Homo sapiens: one gene and its partners. The protein of the gene in region 2 purifies or fractionates together with the protein of the main gene of each other region. This does not show direct contact. Each region holds a gene or a part of one and is shown on either strand. Other genes may lie near its edges.

Evidence for each region.
Region 1: the proteins of MPP1 (region 2) and XXYLT1 purify together in Homo sapiens (co-immunoprecipitation; 2 studies listed by BioGRID and IntAct, with this or other methods). This does not show direct contact.
Region 3: the proteins of MPP1 (region 2) and MYH11 purify together in Homo sapiens (affinity purification with mass spectrometry; 2 studies listed by BioGRID and IntAct, with this or other methods). This does not show direct contact.

The regions. Positions count from the first base shown.
Region 1 is NC_000003.12:195,268,054-195,274,978, reverse strand, and holds the start of XXYLT1 (xyloside xylosyltransferase 1), read left to right. Parts: upstream 1-3,819; 5' UTR 3,820-3,920; coding exon 3,921-4,424; intron 4,425-6,925. UniProt on the Homo sapiens protein: Alpha-1,3-xylosyltransferase, which elongates the O-linked xylose-glucose disaccharide attached to EGF-like repeats in the extracellular domain of target proteins by catalyzing the addition of the second xylose.
Region 2 is NC_000023.11:154,781,400-154,788,506, reverse strand, and holds part of MPP1 (55 kDa erythrocyte membrane protein), read left to right. Parts: intron 1-2,106; coding exon 2,107-2,303; intron 2,304-3,349; coding exon 3,350-3,456; intron 3,457-4,398; coding exon 4,399-4,479; intron 4,480-4,999; coding exon 5,000-5,080; intron 5,081-6,704; coding exon 6,705-6,907; intron 6,908-7,107. UniProt on the Homo sapiens protein: Essential regulator of neutrophil polarity. Regulates neutrophil polarization by regulating AKT1 phosphorylation through a mechanism that is independent of PIK3CG activity.
Region 3 is NC_000016.10:15,713,934-15,721,040, reverse strand, and holds part of MYH11 (myosin-11), read left to right. Parts: coding exon 1-202; intron 203-728; coding exon 729-890; intron 891-1,327; coding exon 1,328-1,456; intron 1,457-1,732; coding exon 1,733-1,821; intron 1,822-2,602; coding exon 2,603-2,726; intron 2,727-3,692; coding exon 3,693-3,901; intron 3,902-5,768; coding exon 5,769-5,877; intron 5,878-5,959; coding exon 5,960-6,132; intron 6,133-7,107. UniProt on the Homo sapiens protein: Muscle contraction.

The DNA of each region.
Region 1 (6,925 bases), on a different chromosome or scaffold from region 2:
CTGTGAAAAGGTATATTTTAAAGAATGTATAACCAACAGTCCATTTACTTTTTATTAGTATGTAGAGGATTTGTATCTAATTCATGAATGTAGTTTTACAGTAGTTTGTCATTGTAAATGGAGCAAAGTACATTATCTTCTAAAATGTACATTATGTAAGAATTGTAAATATACTTAAGTAATTTGTATGCCAAAAAATTACAATAAGTCAATAAAGATCTCACCTCTGGCTTAGTTCTTTCATGGTGATTTACATTTTCTTGTGAAATACACTGTGAACATATCTGTCAACAGCAGTTATTTTTAAGGTACTATTATTTTTAAGGTATTTCTTCCCAGCCCTTTCAAATCCACATTCATCCTATTTGCTGATTACTTCAATCAAGAAATCCATTTGGATCTTTTAAGTATATAATTCTCTTTGTTCACAGAGCTGTTATAGCCCCTAATTCATTGGCAAAAAGATAAAAGGTTTTTTTTGGGGGGTGGGGGGAGGGGCTTGCTCTAAGTTTTTTCCATTATGATTGACATTAATGTTCCTAATCTATGCAGCACATTCCCATTTTATCCTTTTAGTAAACAGACACACACACGTTTGTCAGTGAATTGGGACTGAAGGAATGGAAGGTTGAAAAAACCAAACTGGAAGTGTATCACCTGCATTTGCTTTAAAAAAAAAAAAGCTAATTGAAAGCAGACACATAAACTTTTCAATATAACTTGCTTTATTCAGCTTCATTTCATTTTCAGAATAGTTCTGTGGAGAACCCACATCAATAGTCTATAAATATTTTAAGTGAAAACAGTTTAATTTTTCAATTATTGCAAACACAAAGCTTTTTGCTTGTGGAGAAATGTTAAGAAGAAGCAAGAGAATCATCCACAATTCCATTATCTTGTGCTGTCCAAAATGGAACTCACTAGCTACATGTGGCTACTTAATTGGAATTAGACAAAGAGTTCATTTCCTCAGTCGTACTGCTACATTTTAAGAACTTTATAGCCCCATGTGGCTAGTGACTATTGTTTTGAACAGGGGAGATTGTAGAATATATACATTGTCACAGGAAGTTCTACTGGATAGCACTGAGGGAGATACTGTTACTTTTTTGTGTATACCCTTCTAGACCTTTGGGTGTGTGTATTCATACATTTATATAATGGGATCATACAGTTACCCACTTCTTTCACTTAATAGATGGGGAGAACTTTATGGGAAATTTCAAGCATGTACAGGTAGAGAAAATCAATAGCTATAAGCTCATGGCTTATATTTGTTCTCCTACCCATTTTTCCCCTTTCCTGGACTTTTTGGAACCAGATCCTAGACCTTTCACCAGCAAATCATTCCGTATGTACATCTAAAAGTTGAGGACTTTAAAAAATCGTAACACTTCTTAAACTGTAAAACTACATAATCAATATTCAAATTGGTTTCTCAAATACGATTTTTAAAATAGATCGTGCAAATCAGAATTCACATAAGTTCCATACGTTGCAGTTGGTGAATATGTTTCTTAGTCTCTGTAGGTTTTTTTTTCCATTTGTTACCATTACTATTTTTTTTTTGGAATTGGGGTCTCGCACTGTCATCCAGGCTGGAGTCCTGTGGCGATCGTAGCTCACTGCAGCCTTGGACCCCTGAGCTCAAGTGATCCTCCCACCTCAGTCTCCCACATAGCTTGGAGTACGGGTATGAGCCACCTCACCCATTTGTTAGTTTTTTAAATTTCCACCTGCAGTTTGTTGAAAACATCACTTTTAATGACTGCATTATTTTAGCTTTAACCACTTTATTGATGACCATTTGATTCTGATTTTTTGCCATCATGAACCTAGCTTTGCTTTATTTTTATGTTTGTTTTTTGAGACAGGGTCTCGCTCTCTTTCGCCAGGCTAGAGTACAGAGGCACAATCTCGGCTCACTGCATCCTCTGCCTCCTAGGTTCAAGCGATTCTCTTGCCTCAGCCTCTCGAGTAGCTGGAATTGCAGGTGTCCGCCACCACACTGCCTACTTTTTTTTTTTTTTTGAGACAGGGTTTTGCTCTTGTCGCCCAGGCTGGAGTGCAGTGTTATGATCTCGGCTCACTGCATCCTCTGCCTCCTAGGTTCAAGCGATTCTCTTGCCTCAGCCTCTCGAGTAGCTGGAATTGCAGGTGTCCGCCACCACACTGCCTACTTTTTTTTTTTTTTTGAGACAGAGTTTTGCTCTTGTCGCCCAGGCTGGAGTGCAGTGTTATGATCTCGGCTCACTGCAACCTCCACCTCCCAGGTTCAAGCGATTCTTCTGCCTCAGCCTCCTGAGTAGCTGGGATTACAGGCGCCCGCCACCATGTCTGGCTAATTTTTTGTATTTTTAGTAGAGACGGGGTTTCGCCATGTTGGGCAGGCTGGTCTCGAACTCCTGGCCTAAGGTGATCTGCCCTCCTCGGCCTCCCAAAGTGCTAGGATTACAGGCGTGAGCCACCATTCCCGGCCTAAGCCACCATGCTTGGCCTTGCTTTATTCTTATGGTTAAATATTTTGAACATTCTTAAATTATTAGGAAGATTTTCTAGAAATAAAAATGCTGTTTCAATGGTTGAGTATATTTTTGAGACTCATCCAATGTGGTAGGCACCGTGTTAGGTACTGGGTATATTGTGGTTAATAAAAAACAAATGTATATTCTGTTCTCTTGGAGTCACGTGTTCTTGCAATGAAGAAAGATGAGACTAGGGTAGTACATATATTTAGGTGGCCCTCACAGAATTATTGAGGATGGCACTTAGCCCAGACACTGGATAGGAGGTATTTAGAGATCATTTGTGTAGGTAGTGACATGTAAGCCAAGGTCTGAAGCAGAGAGGTTGGATAATCCATGCAACCTTACAATGTGGAAATAACAGGAAAAACCGTTTACCTAATCTCTGGTCAGAAATCAGAGAACTTGGCCAAAGAACTGAAGGGTTACTGTACTTACTCAAGTTCTTTGTCTATTTAGACAGCATGCACAGCACTTGCACGTGTTTACTTAAAAACTACTGGTATAGCCTCAATTCTTAGAAGACTGAAGTTAGTACGTTTTTATCTAGTTAGCAGTGTGCAACTGCCTAGGGTCAAAATTGCTACTGGCTAGCTGTGTGACTTTGGGCACGTGACCTCGGCGTGCAAAACTCCCTGGTACCCTCAAGGAGGCTCTTGATAAAGTGTTAAAAGTCTGTTTATAAAACAAAAGTGGATGAATGTCGCCCTCCAGGGCTTTGCGGTGCTGGGGCTCGGGGAGCAGCCTCGCAGGTTCGTGCGGGCGGCGGGGGCCCCCTGCTGGCCACATCCTCCAGCCTCCCTCCGCTCGGCCTCCGGCGCGACGTGCGGCCCGGGCCATTTCCTCCCAGGGCGGGGGAAAAGGGAGGAGCTGCCGGTTTAAATTGCCTAGCTGCAGCTCGTGTGCAGGGAGAGGCCGAGACGGCTTAAAGCCTCCAAGAAATTGAGGGAAAAAAGGTGCAGAGATTAAAGTTTTACCTCTTGGTGCCTCCAGCTTCGCTTTTGGCTAACCTAAGTTCCTCTGTTCGGGCGCCTCCATTCCCTTCAACACTCAGCTTGGATATCCTCTGGGGCTCGCCGCGTAGGGCGCCATTTCTCAGCCGGGACAGCGGGCCAGCCCTCAGCACGCTGGAGTCCGGAATCCCCCCCTCCCAACGCCGGGCGCCGGATCCCACCCTAACCCCTCCTCTAATACCCTTGGAACCTAGGACCCAGCGGTTTCGGCACGCCCGGCCCCGCCCCTCCGCGCACCGGCGCCCGCGATTGGCTCCAGGCGGCGCGGCCCCGCCCCTTTCATGGCCGCCGCCTGGCGCCGGGGCTAAGTGGCCGCCGGCGTCCGGGTACCCGAGGGCTCTCCCGCGTTGCTGGCACCGCTGGCGCCGCGGTCTCGTAGCGCATGGGCCTCCTCCGAGGCGGGCTCCCATGCGCTCGGGCCATGGCGCGCCTGGGCGCTGTGCGCTCCCACTACTGCGCCCTGCTGCTGGCCGCGGCGCTGGCCGTCTGCGCCTTCTACTACCTCGGCTCAGGCCGGGAGACCTTCTCCAGCGCCACCAAGAGGCTGAAGGAGGCCCGCGCCGGGGCTCCCGCCGCGCCCTCGCCGCCCGCGCTGGAGCTAGCGCGGGGCTCCGTGGCGCCAGCCCCCGGCGCGAAGGCCAAGAGCTTGGAGGGCGGCGGTGCCGGGCCGGTGGACTACCACCTGCTGATGATGTTCACCAAGGCGGAGCACAATGCCGCGCTGCAGGCCAAGGCCCGCGTCGCGCTGCGCTCACTGCTGCGCCTCGCCAAGTTCGAGGCGCACGAGGTGCTTAACCTTCACTTCGTGAGCGAGGAGGCCAGCCGCGAGGTGGCCAAGGGCCTGCTGCGGGAGCTCCTGCCGCCCGCCGCTGGCTTCAAGTGCAAGGTGAGCGGGCCGCGGCTGGGGGCTCCCGGTGGGTGGCCCACCCCATCCTAGGCGAGGTCAGTTTGCGCTCCCGGAGGGGATCCGGGGAACTAGCGGGTAGGATCTTCCCTGAGCTGCCCGCTTGCAATGTAGTGTTCACAACCTGCGGGAGGGCTCGTTCGGGGGCGTGTCCGGGAGCCAGACGCCCTCAGCTGGTGCTGAGGAGTGGAGCTGCGTTTTTAATGACCGCCTCGTTTTCCTCTCCCCCAGTTAAGCGCAGCCCCCAGGAGAGTCCGCGCGCCCCCATTTTGCTAACGTTGCAGGGTTCAGCACTGCCTTCAGAGTCTGCACCTCTGTTTATGTTCCTCAGTTTTTGACTTCTGAGGATGGGACTGGTCACCAGTAGTCATCCTGAGCAACTGGAGAGGGCCTTGGTGAGGCCTCTGGAAGTGTTGAAGTTGCAGTGACACTTCTCATTGCTCTTAAGGTATTTCAGTAGGATCTGGTCAAACTCATTGTGAACCATCTTATCTCCTCTCTGTGTCCCTTTTTCCCCTTCCTCCAAGGGTCATGAACCCATTTAGAGAAGCCTGGAGTTCCTCCGAATGAGGAAGAGAAAGCTCAAGAGGAACAGATATGATCTGGGGAGAGCACAGCTGGCCGCCTTGTCCCAGGCTGGACCAGTCTGCCTCCATGACAGCTTCCATCTCTGTTTATCATCTGTCTTCACTGCCTGGCTCTCCTTGTCTGAGATGTGTTTCTGACATAGTGTGAATTGCCTAGGTCAAATTGCTTATTTGATTTTGACCTAATAGTTGTACAGAGGGGATCCGAGGCCAGATTTTAAGGAGTAGTAGGTAATATTAAAGGGTGGAGACTGATGTTGGTTGGGGAAGCATGCTGAGACAGGAGTTGTATTATGTGAGTGACTAGGGGAGCTGTTGCCAGGATCCTACAGGCTTCGGGAGTCTCTGATAGCTCCTTGTTGCCTACGGGGTGAAGTCCCAGTTTATTGGTAGGGCTGTTGTGTTGTGAGCCTGGTCCACTTCTCTGGCTTCACCTCTCCTCCTTTGTCTACATGCACCTCATACCTTAGCTATGTAGGGAGTGGGCCTTATACATGCTGTACTGTCTGCCCACAGTGTCCTCTTGGGCCCTTGGCCATTCTTTACTCAGCTTTCACCTCTCCTGAGAAAGTCCCTAGACCCTGGGACCTCTGAAGGTCCTCGCTGGAGGAGGAGCCTGGCAACCTGTCCCAGGTGATCCTAATGACCCTAATATTTGAGAAACTTTGCACTAGTTCACGGTAGAAAACTGAGGGCCCTTGGCCATAGGGTCAGTCTGGGCAGATCTTGGGATTTGACCAGGTCTCCAAACACCGCCTTGAAGATAGCATTGTCATCTCTTCTGGGCCTACTCTGCACCGTTGCCGGATCTCTGTCCCCTTGTCCCCAGCTCCCGCTGCAGCGCTAGCTGCACAGCCAGTGCTTTCCAGCCTACTTGCCTTTGCTTTTGTCATTCCCACTGTTGGGGTGCTCCTTCTCTCCATCTCCAAGTCTTGCCCATCTTCAGATACCATCCCCTCCTTGGAGCCAAGGAAGCGTCCCTTCTTTCCTTTTCTACTTCCCTGGTGCTGTGACTGTATCATGTCTTATCATCCATCCCTATGTACAATGCCTGGCACTCTTAGTTGGCACCAGAAATATTGGCCCAGGGGTAGATCCAGCCTCAGGGCCGAGCCCCTCCTGTCTTGGAGTAAGTGTTTCATGCTCGGACTACCCCACTTTACTGGGCCCAGTTCTGGCAGCCTCACTCAAGGCCTGGAGGCAGCTGCAAATGACCAGAGGGAACTGATACCTCCTCTGTTGAGGGGTGAGGGTTTAGTGTCTGGGGACTTCTAGCCAGATGTCAGTGATTGGATAAGGGGTTATCAGTCCTGGCATAAAATTGCTCCCGTTACTTCTTTTTTTTTTTTGTGAGATGGAGTTTCGCTCTTGTTGCCTAGGCTGGAGTGCAGTGGCACGATCTCAGCTCACTGCAACCTCTGCCTCCTGGGTTCGAGCGATTCTGCCTCAGCCTCTCGAGTAGCTGGAATTACAGGTGCCCACCACCACGCTGGCTAAATTTTTTGTTTTTTTTTTTTTGAGACAGAGTTTTGCTCTTGTCGCCCAGGCTGGAGTGCAACAGTGTGATCTCGGCTCACTGCAACCTCTGCCTCCAAGGTTCAAGTGATTCTCCTGGCCCAGCCTCCTGAGTAGCTGGGATTACAGGCGCCCGCCACCACGCCCGGCTAATTTTTTGTATTTTTAGTAGAGATGGGGTTTCATCATGTTGGCCAGGCTGGTCTCAAATTCCTGACCTCAGGTGATCCACCCACCTTGGCCTCTCAAAGTGCTGGAATTACAGGCGTGAACCACCGCGCCTGGCCTCCGTTACTTTGTTTTGTTTTGTTTTTGATAAGAATTCTTGCTATGTTGCCCAGGCTGGTCTTGAACTCCTGAGCTCAAGCAATTCTCTTGCCT
Region 2 (7,107 bases):
TAGCATTGTCTGATTTGTTGGGTTTTTTTTCACCCTTTGGCCATCCTGATGGTGGTATCACATTGTGATTCTAAAAATTCTCTAATGACTAATGAGGGTAAACTCCTTTTTATATGTTTTTTTCCACTTGGATATCCTCTTTTGTAAGATACCAATTCAAGGCTTTTCTTACTGATTTGTAGCAGTTCCTCATATATTCTGGATAAGAGTCCTTTGTCATATGCATCCCAAGTATGTTCTCTTCTTCTGTGGCTTATTTTCTTCATGGTTCCTGTTAATGACTAGAAACTCTTAATTTTAATGAAATCCAATCTACCACTTTTTTCTGATTAGCACTTTTTATGTCTTGTTTTAAAAGTTTTTACTTACCACAAGGTCAACAAGATATTCTCCTGTGTTTTCTTCTAAATGCTTACTTGTTTGATTTTTCACATTTGGATCCACAACCCATCTGGGATTGATTGTTATATACATTGTAAGGTAAGAGGTCAAGATTCCAGTTTTTCCATATGGATACCAATTGAACCAGTATCATTTACTGTACACTGTCACTTTTGTCATGGTAATATTTACAGGTCTATTTTGGAACTTTTTATTCTTTTCTTTTGGACTGTTTGTTTATCCCTGTGTCAAACCTACATATCAGTTTGGATAAAAGAGGCATCTTCACAGTATCCCAGTGGAAGTGATGATAGCAGACATCTTTGTTTATTTTTCCATCTTAAAGGGAAAGCTGGCCAGGTGTGGTGGCATGCGCCTGTAATCCTAGCACTTTGGGAGGCCGAGGCGGGTGGATTGCTTGAGCCCAGGAGTTCGAGACCAACCTGGGTAACATAGCAAGACCCATGTCCTTTGAAAAAGGCAGGGAAAGCTTTTAATCTTTCACTGAGAAGTATGACGTTGGATGTAGGGTTTCTGTAGGTATTCTTTCTCACAGTAAAGAACCTCCCTTCTATTCCAAGTTTGCTAAGAATTTTAATCTTGAATGGGTTTTGAATGTTATCACAGGCTTTTTCTGCATCTATTGAGGGGATCATATGATCTTTTTCCATTTTTATGTTAACGTGGTGAATTTATTGCCCTTCAGGTAGTAAACCTTCTTATATTGCTGAACTAGATCCTGTTTGGTTGTGATTTATTATACTTTTTATACATAACTAAATTTGACTTGCTGATATTTTGTTTGGGGTTTTTACATCTCTGTTGCAGAGAGAAATTATAAGATTCTTGTCAGATTTGGGTATCATGCTTATAATGAGTTGGGAAGTGCCATCATTTTCTATAATCTGTTTTCGTATGAGATTAGCCTTCTTTCTTCAAATGATGCTTGGAAAATTTGTCAATGAAGTAATGAGGTAGGTGTGTGTGTGTGTGTGTGTGTGTGTGTGTGTGTGTGTGTGTGTGTTTGGGAGCAGGAGAGGAGAATTTTCAATAATAAATTCAAGTTCTTTGATAGATATGAGTGTCCATATTTTCAATTGTGAAAACAGTTGTTCAAAGAGTAGCTGCCCTGTACTGAGACAGACGACCCAGATCCAGCAGTAACTGTGGACACGTTGACGTGGAAAGATATCTCATGCCTTCTTTTTTTTTTTTTTTTTTTTTTTTTTTGAGACGGAGTCTCACTCTGTCGCCCAGGCTGGAGTGCAGTGGCACAATCTCGGCTCACTGCAAGCTCCACCTCCCGGGTTCAAGCGATTCTCCCGCCTCAGCCTCCCGAGTAGCTGGGACTACAGGTGCACGCCACCACACCCAGCTAATTTTTGTATTTTTAGTAGAGACGGAGTTTCACCATGTTAGCCAGGCTGGTCTCCAACTCCTAGCCTCATGTGTTCCACCCGCCTCGGCCTCCCAAAGTGCTGGGATTACAGGCGTGAGCCACTGCGCCTGGCTTCTCATGCCTTCTTGTTAAAGGGATTCATTCTGACCCCTCCGCAAACACAATCACTTCAGCGTTTCAATTTCTCTTTCTTGGGTGCTCCCCCACCATTCTTACCTCCCTGTTGTTCATTCCATCCTGACCCCATTTGTCTACAGCAGGACATGCTCTGATGCTGGTGTTTCTTTTGAAGCTGCCGCCTGCAGTTCCTTTTACCTTCTTTTTAGATGTTCATGAGAGCGCAGTTTGACTATGATCCCAAAAAGGACAATCTGATCCCTTGCAAGGAGGCGGGACTGAAGTTTGCTACTGGGGACATTATCCAGATTATCAACAAGGATGACAGCAATTGGTGGCAGGGACGGGTGGAAGGCTCCTCCAAGGAGTCAGCAGGATTGATCCCTTCCCCTGAGCTGCAGGAATGGTGAGCCATTTTTGTGCAGGTGGAAGGGCCATGTGCCTGCCACAAATAACTTAGCTTCAGAAAATCTGTCATTTTGTTTGTAGTTTCTGTTTCTCAACCAAGGAGACCTCCTAGATTTCCTGGCATAATGGGTGGGGGAGGGTTAACCATGCGTTGATAAGCTGGACTGAGAGGCAACCACAGGCAAGGGAGCCCAAATAGCTCTTCATTCTTATGTGGGCCTCTTGCTTCCTTAAACGTTTTCCCCATAGTTACCAAGCACGTGACAGTGCTGGGACTGAGCCCTCCCTGGTCTCCTGTTTCCCAAGCTAGTGCGCTTCTACCAGCCATGCTGTTTCTGGGATTTCCTTGGAGTCCTGCAGAAAACAGTCGCATTTAAGTATGTGTCCTTTAGGCACATTCCTGGTACATGGAAGAAATAATTCCTGTCCCCGAGTCAGATTGCTCACTTAGTCCTGGTTACATCATAGGAATGGCAGAAAAATTCACAAAACAGTTCCAACTGATAAGACATCCAACACTGAGCCTCCCTCTGCCTGTGCAAACTTACCCCAGTGTAAAGATTACAACCATTGTGGGGTTGACACTGAATAGAAATATTAGAATATATTACATGTAGTAATACAAGTTATTGTTTTGTGAAGCAGTTGTTTTAGATATATATGTGGGGTGTGTGTATGTGTTTTGTTTATAGATGTATGTGCAATAATGGCTTGCAATGTACAGTGTATTTCTTAGAGTGAGGTAGGGTCATAAAGGTTTGAGACCTTTATGGTCTAGACCAAAGAAAGAGAGTTGTTTGTGGGTTGTGTCCAGAATGTGCTGACAGGTACTAGATGACACAGACTCAAGGAGCCAGGTCCCTGACTGAGGGCAGGGCACAGTGCAAGATGCACCAAACAGTGTATGGGGTGCTTTGCACACATTATCTCCCACTGTAATGGACACTCAGAGAGTGAAGGGGGTGCCATTAGAGACTGAGTGGCTGGGGGGGGTATGAGGGGAGGGGGAGGAAAGCTGACCCCTTGATTGTCTTTTCCTACCAGGCGAGTGGCAAGTATGGCTCAGTCAGCTCCTAGCGAAGCCCCGAGCTGCAGTCCCTTTGGGAAGAAGAAGAAGTACAAAGACAAATATCTGGCCAAGCACAGCTCGAGTAAGCTTTCTGAGCCTTCTTGCCCCAGGTTCCTGGCAGCATTCACGTGTTTCCCAGTCTCTGTAACCAGCAGAAAAGGGGAGGTGGTGCAGTGCGCAGCAGAAGGCGCATTCTACAGAAAGCATGTCATTTCTTCTGGTTTCTTTTTATTGAATCCATCTTCACAAGCTTGCTGCAGTCAGGCCAGTGGATGTAAAGGAGGACTAGTGGTGAGCCCACACCTGCTCATCACCCCACCCCTCACACAGAAGTAGATGTGGTGGGAGAGGGGAAGTGAGGCAAGAACACAGGCCAGAGGGAGAGGCCAGGGCCAGGTCATAGGGAGCTTCGTGCACCCTCCCTAGCGTTTTAAATTTTGCACTATAGACTGTGGAGCTGGTGAAGGGTTTTGAGCAGAGAATTCGCACGGTCAGCTTTCCATCTGCATTTCTCTTTTCTGAGACGTCACGTGCACACCACCAGCCAGGGAATGATCGTGGCAGTCTTGGGTTGTAGGCAGGTAAGGGGGTGGAGAGTCAGGATGACACCAGGTCTCTATCTTGAGCAGCTGGGTCAATAGCACCACCATCTTCTAAGATAAGGGACATTCAGGCAGAACCGAGATAGCATTGGCATTCTTCAGCTCTAAGTGCCAAGGGAACATCTGATACTGAAACTATGGAGAAGAGATGAGGACAGGAGACAAGAAAAGTTGGCTCAGAGAGATAGGGCAAGGAGGAAGAGAGGGTGCAAAAGTTAGATAAACTCCCTTGCTCAAAATTCCCTCACCACACTAAAAATACAGTCCAAAGTCCTTCCTCCACACCAACCTCCCTCGTCTCATCTCTAGTCACTTCCTCCCTGCTTGTTGAGATGTCGCGAGGCTGTTTCCCATTTCAGAGTGTGGACCACTGTTCTCCCTAGCTCTGGAAATGAACACTGCTTGGTTTTCTTTGTCTCTAGTTTTTGATCAGTTGGATGTTGTTTCCTACGAGGAAGTCGTTCGGCTCCCTGCATTCAAGAGGAAGACCCTGGTGCTGATCGGTATCTTCTCATTGCCCCATTTGCACATTTCTGTCTTTGTTTTCCTGCCTGCATCACGTGCCCACCCCCAAAAAAGGCAGTGAGGAAGAAAAGAACTGAGGTCTCTTGGGTTCTCCATATAGAGCAGGTGTAAGGAATTTTCTGAATCCTCACGTGCACCCCACCTGGGTCCACCTCACAAATGAAACTAAACCTTACAAGTTTCTCTACTATTTAGCAACGAATTATTTTTGGTTAGGTTTCATGCTGTCTGCTGGCAGTGATACGCTTTGTAAATCTCCCTTCCCCCAAGCAGTGACTCTGACCTGAAACAGAGTAAGTCCTTGCTTCAAACCCAGGTATGTAGGCTTTGCCTCTGGCGGACTGCTCACCTTCCTGTCTTTAGAGTTGACCCCAGCCCAGATGCAACCCCAACTCATGTTCACCTGTTGGCAGTTTTGAGTGCCGAGAGAGGAAAATCCGTATCTTATCCTCGCTCCTCTCCCCCCTTTCCAAAAGATGTTCTTCTCTCTCTACACAGGAGCCAGTGGGGTGGGTCGCAGCCACATTAAGAATGCCCTGCTCAGCCAGAATCCGGAGAAGTTTGTGTACCCTGTCCCATGTAAGTAGCTCTTAGGCACCTTGGAGGGGAGGTGACAGGCTGGTACCACTCGCCATCTGAAATACCATAGTGTTATTTTATTATTTTTTAAATTATTTTATTTTAAATGATTATTAAAACTAAACAAAATATGGAAAGATAAAAATTTGTGCCCACAATTCCTCCACCTAACAGAATAACTGTTTTCTTATTGTTATTCGTGCTGTTTGTCTACATAACAGAAGCTATAGTAAACATTTTGATACTGCCTTAAAAATTACTAAGTATTAAAGTTTATACATATAACTTTGTCATTTTACTTTTTAAACATTTTCTCATGTTCCTCTGCAATTTGCCTAATTCTCTTTGAGAACTATCCCACTCTTGATGTTCAGGCTGCCTCTCATTTTCATGGAATGTCTTCTAAATCAAAGCAGTGCCTAGGAAAGGCCCAAACGATCTCAACAGCAGTCCTAGATATGGAGAAGAGTAGCGCCAGTGATCAGGTGGAGAATTTGATAACTCTTCCATTCCCAGAAGTGATGCTGCATGGTATAGTTGTGTATGTTCCCAGAAAGAAATACGGTGATTCCTCACTTAATATTGTCAATAGGCTCTTCGAAGACTGTGACTTTAAGTGAAATGACATATAACAAGAACCAGTTTTTTTACTCATCAACAATACAATGAAATGAAGTTGAACTAAACCATGTTAGTCAACGACCAGCTGCATGTGATTTCACTTAAAGTCACATTTTCTAAGAACCTACTGATAATAATATTAAGTGAGGAATTACTGTACTGCTAAGCAAAATAGAAAACCAGATTCTAAACCTCATATTACTATTTTTTAATTCTTTCTTCATTTTGCTTTTTTACACATGGATCATTGAGAGTTGTCTCGTTGCTGGAGGGACATAAGAGTTATTCCAGTGTCACATTAGGAGCAGAAAGAGATGGCCCCAGGAGTGAGTGGGGAAGCAGAAATAACCAGTACAGGCTCCTCCTTCAAGAGAATCACATGTGGTTGTAGATTGAGGGGAAGGGGCCAGTTGAGAGACAAGTGTGATCCGGAAGGCAAAGGAGACAGTCAATGGAAGATGGAAAGAGGGGAGGTTGGGAGGATTGTGTTTCAAGCTACAATATCTGGAGCATATTTTACTGATTAGACAATTTATATGAGTAATAGAAAATAGTCCAACTTTTAACAACATGAGCTGAAACTAAACCAAAGTACTCTTCTTTCCAAGTCATGAAAAGGAAACCTTAAATATATTTCCAAGAAATCCTGACCATAGTCTGTAGATCTGTTTTTAAAATATTTTCCGCTATCTTCATTTCTAAGTTTCAATATTCCTAGATTTGGTAGTTTGAGAGATGTAACTTCATTTAGGGAAAATGATAATAGGAATTTTCTATGTTAGGCTTTGCCCCTTAAAAATTAAATGTGTCCTGGGCAGATGGAGGGATTTCCTGGTGTGCATCACTTTCTAGCATCAGCTCTTCAGGAGCCCACGGGAGGAACCCCTGTATTAAAGTCAATGCACCAAAGGCAGCTAGGGTTTCCATACAGACACCATGGTCCAAGCCCTCATGAAAGGGTGAGGACCTGGAGTTTGTCGGGGATTTGGGTTCTTGTACACAGATACAACACGGCCGCCAAGGAAGAGTGAGGAAGATGGGAAGGAGTACCACTTTATCTCAACGGAGGAGATGACGAGGAACATCTCTGCCAATGAGTTCTTGGAGTTTGGCAGCTACCAAGGCAACATGTTTGGCACCAAATTTGAAACAGTGCACCAGATCCATAAGCAGAACAAGATTGCCATCCTTGACATTGAGCCCCAGGTGGGTAGGCATGGAAGGGCAGGGACAGATGGGCTCAGCCACACAAGGGATGGCGAAGACAGTGCTCCTTGGGAATCTTCTGGGGGCTCAGGATTGCTTCAGCCTTTTAATGGGGTCAGCCTGGAACAAGAACAGTAGTACTGGGAATGATGGAAAGTTGTATTGGGGTAAAGCTCAAAGCTGCTTATTAGAAGGAATCC
Region 3 (7,107 bases), on a different chromosome or scaffold from region 2:
GGAGAAGTCCAAGCGGGCCCTGGAGACCCAGATGGAGGAGATGAAGACGCAGCTGGAAGAGCTGGAGGACGAGCTGCAAGCCACGGAGGACGCCAAACTGCGGCTGGAAGTCAACATGCAGGCGCTCAAGGGCCAGTTCGAAAGGGATCTCCAAGCCCGGGACGAGCAGAATGAGGAGAAGAGGAGGCAACTGCAGAGACAGGTGCGTGCTGCCGGGGAGGCCAGCAGAGGGAGGTCGGGTGGCCTTTTTCATTCCTATCACCACTCTCATGGTTGGTGTGGAAACTTCGTTTTCTTTATTTTTTTTTGAAACAGAGTCTCGCTCTGTCGCCCAGGCTGGAGTGCAGTGGCGTAATCTCAGCTCACTGCAACCTCCACCTCCTGCCTCAGCCTCCCGAGTAGCTTGGATTACAGGCGCATGCCACCATACCTAGCTAATTTTTTTTTTTTTTTCAGTGGAGACAAGGTTTCACCATGTTGGCCAGGCTGGTCTTGAACTCCTGGCCTCAAGTGATCCATTCTCCTGTTGGCCTCCCAAAGTGCTGGGATTACAGACATGAGCCACCCACGCCCGGCGTGATTCCGTTTTCTCATCTGCAACTGGGGATGAGATGCCCACCTCACAAGGGGGCTGTGCTGGGGAAGGGGTGCAGTGATGTGCTGCCTAGGTGAGCCAAAGGACCTCCCAGGGGCAAGTGGGGCAGCACACATCTCTATTCCTCGCCCAGCTTCACGAGTATGAGACGGAACTGGAAGACGAGCGAAAGCAACGTGCCCTGGCAGCTGCAGCAAAGAAGAAGCTGGAAGGGGACCTGAAAGACCTGGAGCTTCAGGCCGACTCTGCCATCAAGGGGAGGGAGGAAGCCATCAAGCAGCTACGCAAACTGCAGGTGGGTGACACTAGGAGCTTGGGGCATGGGTGGAGGGAGGGCACAGTTCCCCTCAGGCCACCGAAGTCAGCAGAGCGGGCTCCAGGAAGCAAGCCTGCACCTGCCATTGGTGTGGGTTCAGCTGGGGTTTTTCTGGAACCATTCAGGATTTGGTGGCTGTCTCCTGCCCTGGGTAGGGCAGCATTATTAGGTATTTGGCCACTGCCCTCAGATCACATCAGGGGCTCAGCTTCTCAGGCAGGTCTGTGGAGCCCACCCAGAATGGTGCTCCCAGCGCACCACCAGCCACCTGGAACTGAGAGCCATGCTCGTGCAATGGGAACTTCTTTGTGGTCAACTGCAGAAAATCCAAGGGGTGGGTGTGCAAAGCTGAACTGGGCAGCAGAACTTGGGGGAGTAAGGACATCTGAGCTTGTCCTCCCTGTTGACTCATGCAGGCTCAGATGAAGGACTTTCAAAGAGAGCTGGAAGATGCCCGTGCCTCCAGAGATGAGATCTTTGCCACAGCCAAAGAGAATGAGAAGAAAGCCAAGAGCTTGGAAGCAGACCTCATGCAGCTACAAGAGGTAAAGCCTCGCCTTGCTAGGAGAGCCTCAGATGCGGGTGTCACGGTAGCACCCCTTGGCAGCTCCAGTCTGTGCATTCCCAGATTTCATTTCGTCCTCCTCTGGGGTCCACCTGTCTAGAAAGACACACGCTTCCCTCCTCTATGTATTCACGGGGCCTCCCCTGAGCTCAGAGGAAGAACATGTACTTTCAAGGGTGGCTGAGTTGTCAGGGTGGACTCTTGGTGGGGCTTGGCCTTTCCCTGGCAGACAACAGCCTTCCTCCCTCCCACCTAGGACCTCGCCGCCGCTGAGAGGGCTCGCAAACAAGCGGACCTCGAGAAGGAGGAACTGGCAGAGGAGCTGGCCAGTAGCCTGTCGGGAAGGTAGGAAACTGAATGGAGGAAGAGGGCTCTGAAGCAGAGGATGGGGGGACAGGCAGCATCCTCGACCCCCATTTTATTTTTTAAATTTTTTCGAGACAGAGTTTCATTCTGTCACCCAGGCTGGAGGGCAGTGGCACAATCTTGGCTCACTGCAACCTCCACCTCCCAGGTTCAAGCAATTCTCCTGCCTCAGCCTTCTGAGTAGCTGAGACTACAGGTGTGTACCACCATGCCTGGCTAATTTTTATATTTTTAGTAGAGGTGGGGTTTCACCATGTTGGCCAGGCTAGTCTTGAACTCCTGACCTTAGGTGATCCTCCTACCTTGGCCTCCCAAAGTGCTGTGATTACAGGTGTGAGCCACCGTGCCTGGCCCTGGACCCCCATTTCAATGCTGCTGCTGACGAAGCGTCCTCTGAGATTGGGGACAGACCCATGGTGGTTAGGTTTTCCGTCAGCGCTTTCATGCCTGTTTGGGGGTGTGGCTGCTTTCATTCATTCCCAATAAGTAGCTGTGTGGGGAGAAGGGGAGGCCAGGAAGAGTCAGGGAGGAGTGTGCTGGTCCCCATCCCAATCCCAGCTTTGCTGACACGGACCCGGCCTGAGTCCCGGCTGTCCACTTCCTGGCTGTGTAACTACAGATGAGTCTTCTAATCTTCTCCAAGCCTCAGTTTCACCCATTAGATGATGAGGGCAATACCCCTGAGGCATGACTCCAAGGAGGGGGCATCTTTTAAGGCGGGGGAGGGTAGAGGCCCCCACCATGGCCGCCCTTCCCCCAGGAACGCACTCCAGGACGAGAAGCGCCGCCTGGAGGCCCGGATCGCCCAGCTGGAGGAGGAGCTGGAGGAGGAGCAGGGCAACATGGAGGCCATGAGCGACCGGGTCCGCAAAGCCACACAGCAGGTGAGGGCCGCCTGGACACCACAGTCACGCTGCCTACTGTCTCTCCTGCAGCAGGATCCTGCACCAGTCAACACACGCGTGGCGGCTTCCTGTGTGCAGGCCCTGGATTGAGGGACAAGAGGGTGGTGGGGCCTGAGAGTAGAGATCCAGGGCCCTTACACCAGTGCCCAGGCTGCTGTCTTCAGAATACTCCTCTCCACGCTGCAGTGTCTCATTTTCCAGCCACGGCGTGGCTGGCTCCCCGTACCTCACGGCCATCCCTGGAGTCCGGGCCTTGGGATGCTCTTTCATTGCGTTTTCCCCTAGCTGAAGCTCTGACCTTATCCAGTGAGCCCTTGGTGATGTCACTGAGCACTAGTTCCATGGTGGGCACTAGGGACCATCCAGTAACCTGCAGCCCCTTGTGGTGTAGGGTGAACAGGCATCATTCTCCAGGCGACTCCAGGACAGAGAAAGCAAGGGACAAGTCACTCGCTCAGCCTGGGTGGCACTGACACTTGTGGAAGCACCTCTTTTTTTTGGAGACAGGGTCTCTCTGTGGCCCAGGCTGGAGTGCAGTGGCGCAATCTTGGCTCACTGCAACCTCTGCCTCCCAAGTTCAAGGGATTCTCCTGCTTCAACCTCCCAAGTAGCTGGGACTACAGGCACGTGCCACCACTGCCCGGCTAATTTTTGTATTTTTAATAGAGACGGGGTTTCACCATGTTGGCCAGGCAGGTCTCGAACTCCTGAGCTCAAGTGATTTACCTGCCTCTGCTTCCAAAAGTGCTGGGATTACAGGCGTGCGCCACCACGCCCGGCCTGGAAGAAGCTCTTGAGTGGAGTTTTACAGGATGAAGGAGAGGACAGGGTGCCCGGGATCAAGGGACTCGTGCAGAGGCCAAACAAGGCAGGAAGAGGCATGGTCTCAGTGCGCTCTCTTGGGCTTCCCTGAGTCCGCCTCATGGCCTTCACTCTCCTCCCCAGGCCGAGCAGCTCAGCAACGAGCTGGCCACAGAGCGCAGCACGGCCCAGAAGAATGAGAGTGCCCGGCAGCAGCTCGAGCGGCAGAACAAGGAGCTCCGGAGCAAGCTCCACGAGATGGAGGGGGCCGTCAAGTCCAAGTTCAAGTCCACCATCGCGGCGCTGGAGGCCAAGATTGCACAGCTGGAGGAGCAGGTCGAGCAGGAGGCCAGGTATGCGGGTGTGGAGTTCCGAACCCAGTTTGCAGGGGGGTGATGGACAGCAGGAGTCATAGTGAAGTCAGGGAACCTCTTCCAGCATCAGTTCTGGCTTGTAAGAAGCAAGCTCTGTGATGCCTACAGTGCAGGTATGTTGTGAGAACTGAACGTAAACACAGCAAAGTGCCCTGCTGGTTCCTGGCCTAGGGCAAGCACCTAAAGTGTGAGCTGCTCTTAGCATCTCCATGGTCCTCCTGACATTAACCTGCCTTCCCAGCAGTACATATGACTTTTCCCAGCCTCTGCAGGGATAGCATGCTGACAGATCAAAAATCCAACCAGGCTGGACGTGGTGGCTCACGCCTGTAATCCCAGCAATTTGGGAGGCTGAGGCAGGTGGATCACTTGAGGTCAGGAGTTTGAGACCGGCCTGGCCAACATGGTGAAACCCTGTCTGTACCAAAAATTAGCCGAGTGTGGTGGCACATGCCTATTATCTCAGCTACTCAGGAGACTGAGGCAGGAGAATCACTCCAACGTGACACGTGGAGGTTGCAGTGAGCCGAGATTGTGCCACTGCACTGCAGCCTGGGTGACACAGTGGGACCCTTCCACACACATACACACACACAAAAAAAACCCCAAAAAACAAAAGTCCAACCGGCAGCCCATTTGGTACACACACTGGAAGCCTTCTTAATTATGGGTCGAATGAGGCATATGATCACAGCACATTTCTTACCATTGGATTCTAAGGATTCTCACCCATTCTCTTCTAGTAGCTTTTTCAGTAATTCGCACGCCCTGCAATGCACCCATTTAAAGTGTATAATTCAAGGGCTATTCATATATTCACAAACATGTAAAAACGATCACCACAGTCATTTTGAGAACATTTTCATCGGCTCAAACAGAAACCCCAGGCCATATGTGGTATTTCATGCCCATAATCCCGGCACTTTGGGAGGCTGAGGTAGGTGGGAGCAGCACTTGAGTCCAGGAGTTCGAGACCAGTCTGGGCAGCATAGCAAGACTTTTTTATTTTTATTTTTTTGAGACATAGTCTCACTCTGTTTCCCAGGCTGGTGTGCAGTGGTGCGATCTCAGCTCACTGCAACCTCCGCCTCACCCTCCCAAGTAGCTGGGACTACAGGTGCACACCACTGTACCCAGCTTGTAATTGTATTTTTTAGTAGGGATGGGGTTTCACCATGTTGGCCAGGCTGGTCTCGAACTCCTGACCACAGGTGATCTGCCCACCTCGGCCTCCCAGAGTACTGGGATTACAGGCATGAGCCACCACGCCTGGCCAGAGACTCCGTTTCTATGAAAAACTTTTAAAAGTCTGAGCATGCTGGTGTACGCCTGTAGTCCCAGCTACTTGGGAGGCTGAGGTGGGAGGATTGCTTGAGCCAGGAGTTCAAGGCTGCAGTGAACTATGAACTAGGGTGAAGAGCAGGCATTGGAGCACCACTGCACTCCAACCTGGGTCACACAGCAAGACCTTGCCTCCTCCCCGCAAAAAAAATAGAAACCCCATGCCCTGTAACCACTCCCTTCAGTCCCTGGCAACCATAATCTACTTTCTGTCTCTATGAATTTATCTATTCTGGACACTTGATATCAACGGAATCACACACTATGTTGTCTGCTATGTGTCTTCTTTCACTTGGCAAGAATTCCAGGCTCATCCATGCTGTGGCATGCATTGATACTTTATTCCTTTTCATGGCTGAATACTATTCCACCATCTGACTGATTCTTGAGAGGAGTCCAGATACGGGGCTCAGGAAAGCACTCAAGATGCCACCTCCAGGTGACACACCAGCTACAAGGGGTGCCACCCTCCGCTGAAACCACCTGTTTTCCTTGCTGTTTGCAGAGAGAAACAGGCGGCCACCAAGTCGCTGAAGCAGAAAGACAAGAAGCTGAAGGAAATCTTGCTGCAGGTGGAGGACGAGCGCAAGATGGCCGAGCAGTACAAGGAGCAGGTAGCCCCTGCCACCCAGCCTCCCTCGAGCCCCCAGCCCCCAGCCGGCCTCCCCTAACCACCCCTCCAACTCTCCGCGACAGGCAGAGAAAGGCAATGCCAGGGTCAAGCAGCTCAAGAGGCAGCTGGAGGAGGCAGAGGAGGAGTCCCAGCGCATCAACGCCAACCGCAGGAAGCTGCAGCGGGAGCTGGATGAGGCCACGGAGAGCAACGAGGCCATGGGCCGCGAGGTGAACGCACTCAAGAGCAAGCTCAGGTGAGGAGCCCGTGGCCCGGGAGGACCCCGTCTCTCAGGCCAGAGAAAAGCACTGGGGGCTCGGGCTCCTTTCGGCCTGCAAATGCCCCTTGTGCCCACAGCCGCCACTCCCTTCTGTGGTTTATTCCTGCTTCTCCTTAATCACTAAGCTTAGTGTGGGCCAGGCACTGAGATCAGACCCGGGCCCTGCCTTGCCTGGTAGCAGCTAACCTTCTAGATCCTTTAACGATCGACCGTCTCCCATCCGGTCCTCCGGCTGAGGAGGAGGAAGAGGCTATCCCCACTGTCTCCTCCAGCCCCTCCTTCATTGCATCACTGAGTCTTCACGACATCCATTGAAGCTGCAACACCACCCCCCGCCACTTCACCTCCTTCCTGACATGCTCTGCTCCTCCTTTCTCCCCCTCAGCACTGCTGCCATCTGGGCTGCATTATTCTCGGGTATGGGGGCTGTCCGACATTCCCCATCAGAAGGAAAAAGATCCCTGAAAAGTAGCAGGTGCTTACATTTCTGGCCTCTACCCACCGGCTGCAGTAGTCCCCCACCACCCTGCAATGTGACAACCAAAAATGTCTCTAGATGTTGCCAGAAGTCCTCTAGAGATGGGAGGGTACGACTGCCACCCCGCTGAGAATTCCTGCTGTCACTGGAGTGGGGGCTGTTTTCTCTCCCATGCCTCTGGTACCTTGGGGGTCCCCCCTGCTCCCAAGGGCTGCTTCCACCACCCTGTCCATCCATCCCGATTGGCTCCCAGGAGGTTTTAGCTCCGGGCTTCCTGTCTCCCACACCACTCCTCACAGTTCTCCATGATTTCAACATCCAGGTGGGCGACGCAGCCTCTCGGTTCCTTGACCCTCTGGGTGATCCTGCTGCTTCTACCGGGCCAACCAGTACTCCTAGGAGCCCTCACAATTTGACCCTCAGGCATCCCATTGTCTGCCTGGTGCCACCTTTCTTTGGCTCTGTCCCCAACG